Linked DNA regions of Homo sapiens: region 1 is linked to region 2. Evidence: fine-mapped expression QTL. A gene starts in region 2. The other region holds a variant in brackets. All regions are shown on one strand. Distances are from middle to middle.

Region 1 (2,913 bases), 130 kb before region 2:
GTTCGAGCTTCCTGGCCACTTTGTTTACCTACTCAAGCCTCAGCAATAGTGGGCGCCCCTCCCCAAGCCTCACTGCCGCCTTGCAGTTCGAACTCAGACTGCTGTGCTAGCAATGAGCAAGGCTCCATGGGCGTGGGACCCTCCAAGCCAGGCGCGGGATATAATCTCCTGGTGTGCCATTTGCTGAGACCATTGGAAAAGTGCAGTATTAGGGTGAGAGTGACCCGATTTTCCAGGTGCCGTCTGTAACCCCTTCCCTTGGCTAGGAAAGGGAATTCCCTGACCCCTTGCACTTCCTGGGTGAGGCGATGCCTCACCCTGCTTTGGCTCACACTCAGTGGGCTGCACCCACTGTCCTGCCCCCACTGTCCAATGAGACCCAGTGAGATGAACCCAGTACCTCAGTTGGAAATGCAGAAATCACCCGTCTTCTGCGTTGCTCATGCTGGGAGCTATAGACTGGAGCTGTTCCTATTCGGCCATCTTGGAACCGCAGAGATGGGGTTTCACCACGTTGCCCAGGCTGGTCTCAAACTCCTGACCTCAGGTGATCTGCCTGCCTTGGCCTCCCAAAGTACTGGGATTACAGGTATGAGCCACTGCGCCTGGCCTCTTACTCTTTAACATAAGCAAAAATATCAACCAACATTCGTATCCAAACTGCACTCACTCATGATTTGCAACTATTGGTTGGCTACTGATATGGGAGTTGAGCAAAGTCTATAAAAGTATTTTGTGAAAATCAACTGGCTGTGTGGAATTTATAAGAAAGACTTTTGCACATTTTATTATTCTCAAATTGTTTACTCAGTAAAATTTCTTAAAAATATATGCAAGAGCATATGTAGCTTTTCTGAAGCAGCATTTATTAAACATTTACTGGCACACCATTGCATTAAACTCTCCCCATTTGAGGAGATTGGGCCCCAGAGGGTAGACATGCCCGCCCAAGACATGGGCGGATCCATGACCCCCACCCTGCTCCTCCCACCCCATCAAGGCTACTTCTGCCATCTAATACCAGCCCTTCCAGGGGGGATTGTAAAAGGATGGCCCAGTGAGACAGGAAAATTCTCTGGGGTTCAACCATTTACAATTATTCCTGAAACCGTCTGGGTGCCATACAAATAGCTAAGCCATAAATCATAAGAGGTGCATAAAATCATATGAAGTTAAACATACAGCTAAACAAAATCCAGCAATTTCATTTCTAGGTATTTACCCAAGAGAAATAAAAACATATGTGCCCACAAAACTTACATATGAATGCTCATAGCAGATTTATTCCCAATATCCCCAAACTGGAAACAACCCAAATGTCCATCAAAAGGCACTGGATAAACAAACTGTGATATATTCCACATAATAGAATACTACTCAGCAATAAAAATGAATGGACCATTGATCCACAGAAAAATATGGATGAATTTCAAATAATTATGCTGAGTAAAAGAGCCAAACATAAATGAGTGCATGCTGTGTGATTCCACTTTATATAACATTCTAGAAAAGCCAAACATTGAAGGACAGAAACCAGGTTAGTATTTGCTGGGTACTGGAAGGGACAGACTGCTAAGTGGCAGAGGGGAGGGAATTGTTGGAG[G/A]ATGGAAAGGCTACATATCTTGAGTTTGGTGAGGATTCCACAGGTGTACCCACTTGCCAAAACTGTGCTTGAACATGAGTGCATTTTATTATATGAAAGCTATACCTCACCAAAGCTGATTTTAAAAGTACTAGGTATGTAACCTTGGTCAAGTTATTCTGCTTTCCTGGGCCTCAGTTTCCTCATCTGTAAAATGTAATAATAGTTGCTATACTGTGAAGATTAAAGAAGAGACTATGGGTAAACCCTTAGAACAATGCCTCACACACAGGTGTGTACAATTAATACAGCAGTGCCCCCTTATCCAGGAGAATATGTTCCAAGACCCTCAGTGCATGCCTGAAACTTCAGATAGTTCTTTTTTCTTTTCTTTTCTTTTCTTTTCTTTTCTTTTCTTTTTTTTTTTTTTTTTTGAGACGGAGTCTCACTCTGTCACCCAGGCTGGAGTGCAGTGGCACAATCTTGGCTCACTGCAACCTCCGCCTCCCAGGTTCAAGTGATTCTCCTGCCTCAGCCTCGTAGATAGGATTACAGCTGTGTGCCATCACACCCAGCTAACTTTTGTATTTTTAGTAGAGATGGCGTTTTACCATGTTGCCTAAGCTGGTCTCAAACTCCTGACCTCAGGTATCCACCTGCCTCAGCCTCCCAAAGTACTGGGTTTACAGGTGTGCGTCACTGTGCCCATCCAACTTCAGTTAGTTCTTTTTTTTTTTTTTTTTTTTTTGTATTTTTAGTAGAGACAGGGTTTCACCGTGTTAACAAGGATGGTCTCGATCTCCTGACCTCTTGATCCATCTGCCTCGGCCTCCCAAAGTGCTGGGATTAAAGACTTGAGCCACTGCGCCCGGCCTAACTTCAGTTAGTTCTAAACCCTGCATATACACTATGTTCTTTCCCTTATATATATATATACCTATGATTAAGTTTATAAATTAGGCACAGTAAGAGATTAGCAACAATAATAATAAATAAATAATAAAATAAATAATAATAAAATCAAACGATTATAGCAATATGCTATAATAAAAGTTATGTGAATGTGGTCTTTCTATCTCAAATATCTTATTTTACTGTAGTCACCTGTTTTCAGACTGCAGTCGATTGAAAGTAACTAAAATCTCCGAAAGCAAAACCATGGATAAAAGGAAACTATTGTACTAGTTTACGTTGCTTGTTGGTTTTTGTTAAACTATAACTAATCCAGTAACAGGTATTCATTCATGCAATAAATCAACAAATATTTATTAAGCACCTACTACATTCTAGGCATTGTTCTAAACACTTGAAATGCAAAAGTGGGCTAAGTG
Region 2 (2,913 bases):
ATGAGATAATCCGTATAAAGCACTAACCTGGAGTAAAAATTCAATAAATATTTGCTACCACCATAATCTTCTTCCTATTCTTCACATCTTGGCTTAAATATCGCCTCCCCAGAAAGGCTTTTCCTGACCACTTTATAAAACATGGGCCCTTTTTCATTCTCTATTAGTGCACTTCTTTCTCCTCATAGCACTCACCACAATTAAGTACACTGTTTATTGTTTTCCTCTCCCCAGTGAAAAGTACATGAGGGCAGGACTTTGTCTTGTTCAGCACAATAATACCAACACTGAAACTCAATAAATAAATTAAAGAAATAAGTGAATTAAAAAACTGGAAAGTGCAATAATTCAAATACGGACGTTATATGGTCTAAGGGAAATCTGAGCAAAACTGGTTCAGCAACAGTGAAAAAACCACCTTGACTGGTGGAGAAGGTTTGTACCACAAAAGTACTTGGGTGGGAAAAGTAGGATGCAGCTACACTTCAGAAAGATTAGGAGGATGGATAAAGAGAAGGACAAGAGATTGGCAATACTTTAGGATGAATATGTAGCAGCGGGTTCTGTGGAATGGGGTTAATAGCAGTGCTTATCCCTAAGGATCACCGTCAAAGTTAAATGAGATACACCATCATAAAGCACTTAACGGAACTGCTTGTCCACCACACTACGAGTTATCAGTGTTAGCTGCTACCAAGGTTACGATTCTGCAAGGAGAATAATTTAAACAGATCAAGTGCTGACAGACCCTCACGGAGACTTGGGGGAAACAACCACACTTCAGGGACAAAACCAAACAGAAGAGCAGCAGACAGCAGGGAAGCAGGAGAACTAGGCTAATTTGGTGTCAAGAGGTCCAAAAAAGGTAAGAATTTCGGTAAGTAGGGAGCGGACAGACAAGAGATAGATCAACAGAAGGCGGCCTGGGCAAAGTTAAAAGGACCGACGGGTTGGGAAGTCACGGAGATGTCAGCGCGCGCCGTTCCCAGGAAGGGAGAGACTGGGAGAGCAAACGCGGAGTGAAAGGAAAGAACAGAACAAGTCAGAACGGGACGAGAACTAGGGCGACAGGGCAGAAACGGGAAAGTGACACGGTCCAAACGTCACTTTTTCAAGTGATTCCGCAATCCTTTGATATGGGATTTAAGAAAGCTCAAGAAGGAAAAGGGCTTCCGCAGCATCTAAAACGCACCCCTGGAAGAGGGCAGTTCCCTGGCACCAAGAGAAGCTGCGGAAACGTCGGGAAAAGGCATTCGCGCAATCGAGCACTGCTCTCTCGACCTTGCATTCTCCCTCTAAAGCAGCTATCTAACGAATGCGCCTTTCCTGCGGCCAGGCACCCCGAACTCGCCTGAGAAAGTATGGCTTGGCGTAGAACTTGAAGTCAGACCCCTCGAAGTAGACGTCGAACTCGGAGACCCGGGCGTAGGGCACGCGGATGGCGATAGTCAGGAAGTCCGGATCCTGGCTGAGGTCGAACGCCGGGGTCAGCATCGCCGCACCGGACGCAAGGGCCGGCGCCGCTCGCTCTCACTGCCGCCGCGTTCCCGCCACGCAAACTCTCCAACTCCCCACGCGCAGGAACTCTCGGTGTGAGGGACGGAGCTTCCGGCTCGAGGCGGAAGTGCTCGCGCGTAAGGCAGGAAGTCTCTCCCCACGCCAATCTCCATGGAGACGGGACGCCGTTCGAGAAGAGGCGGAACTTTCAAAACCCCCGGGCGGAGAAAGGGCGTGGCGAGTGGTGCCTGGGAGCCGGCGTTGAACCGGCGGGATGACTAGCAACCGAGCCTTTTTCGAGGTTCTTAGAGATGATTTTAACAGCACTGGCTTGACAGGTAAACAGACGTGCGTTTGAATCCCTTCCTGGCCACAACTTCTCAGCTGTAAGACCTTGGGAAAGTTACAAAACCTCTCTATATCTTCTGTAAAACGCGGATAATGCGAGAACCTAGCCCCATAGAAATGCTGTGAGGGTAGCATGAAATTGTGCATGTAGAACTCTAATAACGAACTTGGCAAGTTGTCAACGCTTGATGTGCTGAAGTAGTCACCGCAGTAGCCACAGCAGCACCGTTACAGTGGTTTCCCTTAGTTCTCACCTGCCTTGTGAACAATTCCTCTTACACTTTCCCTTTCCTCCCTCTCTCTTTCCACTTCTCTTTTTCTGCAGCTTTCTCTCTCATTCTTAACGGCTTATTTGAAGAGTTTTCTCTTTAACAGAGCGTCCGTCCCGCTAATCTCATCTAATCTACGCTGCAAACTCTAAAGAAAACGGCTCAGAGAGGTTAATCAGTACGTTTTATAACCATGCATTTTACAGTAATTAGAACTCAGAACGTTTGACTCTTAAACCGTGTCGGTGACTGCATTCACAAATTAAGGTCCCTCTGTATTCCCCTTCTTTCCTTTTTCTCACTCTTGTCCTTACACTTGTCTGAGGACATCTTTTCTGTCTTTTTTTCTACTTGTCTTCCTTGTATTTTCTCCCTTTGGAGTGTGCCCCTTACACTCTCTCAGTGCCTCTCCCGCTGGTTTCCCTCTTCCCCCACATATTCCCTTGGCCTTTCCACACATGTTGTTTCCTGTTATTCCACCACTAATTAGAATAATCCAGTTGTGGTATTTATTCCGTGGTTTTAAGTATCAGTGGAAAAGGGATGAAAAGTACTCTCCTAGGACAGTGGAGATAACCAGAAAACTTCAAAAGTCTTTTCAATCTCCAGCTGTTTTATGATTCTAAGGAGACATTCTTGAAACTTCATTAGGACTCAGAAAAAAAATTAATAGTAACAGGGGCTAACATTAACTGAATATTTACTATGTGCCAGCACTGCAGCAAACCCTTTGTAATGATCTCATTCTCCCTCCTGACCGCTCTATGAAGTAGGCATTATATATTCCCTTGGCTTGCAC

Evidence for each region. PIP is the estimated chance that this variant, and not a neighbour inherited with it, causes the effect.
Region 1: its variant is fine-mapped to the expression of SHQ1 in whole blood (INTERVAL, PIP above 0.99).

What each region holds. Positions count from the first base shown.
Region 1 is chr3:72,716,000-72,718,912 of GRCh38, forward strand. It overlaps LOC105377161 (a long non-coding RNA gene), which reads right to left and starts at 442. Exons shown (of 11, transcript XR_940962.3): 1 at 401-442. The variant G/A (reference allele first, on the strand shown) is at 1,604.
Region 2 is chr3:72,846,847-72,849,759 of GRCh38, forward strand. SHQ1 (SHQ1, H/ACA ribonucleoprotein assembly factor) reads right to left here and starts at 1,599. Exons shown (of 11, transcript NM_018130.3): 1 at 1,352-1,599. The coding sequence starts at 1,494. RefSeq lists an enhancer at 1,818-1,917.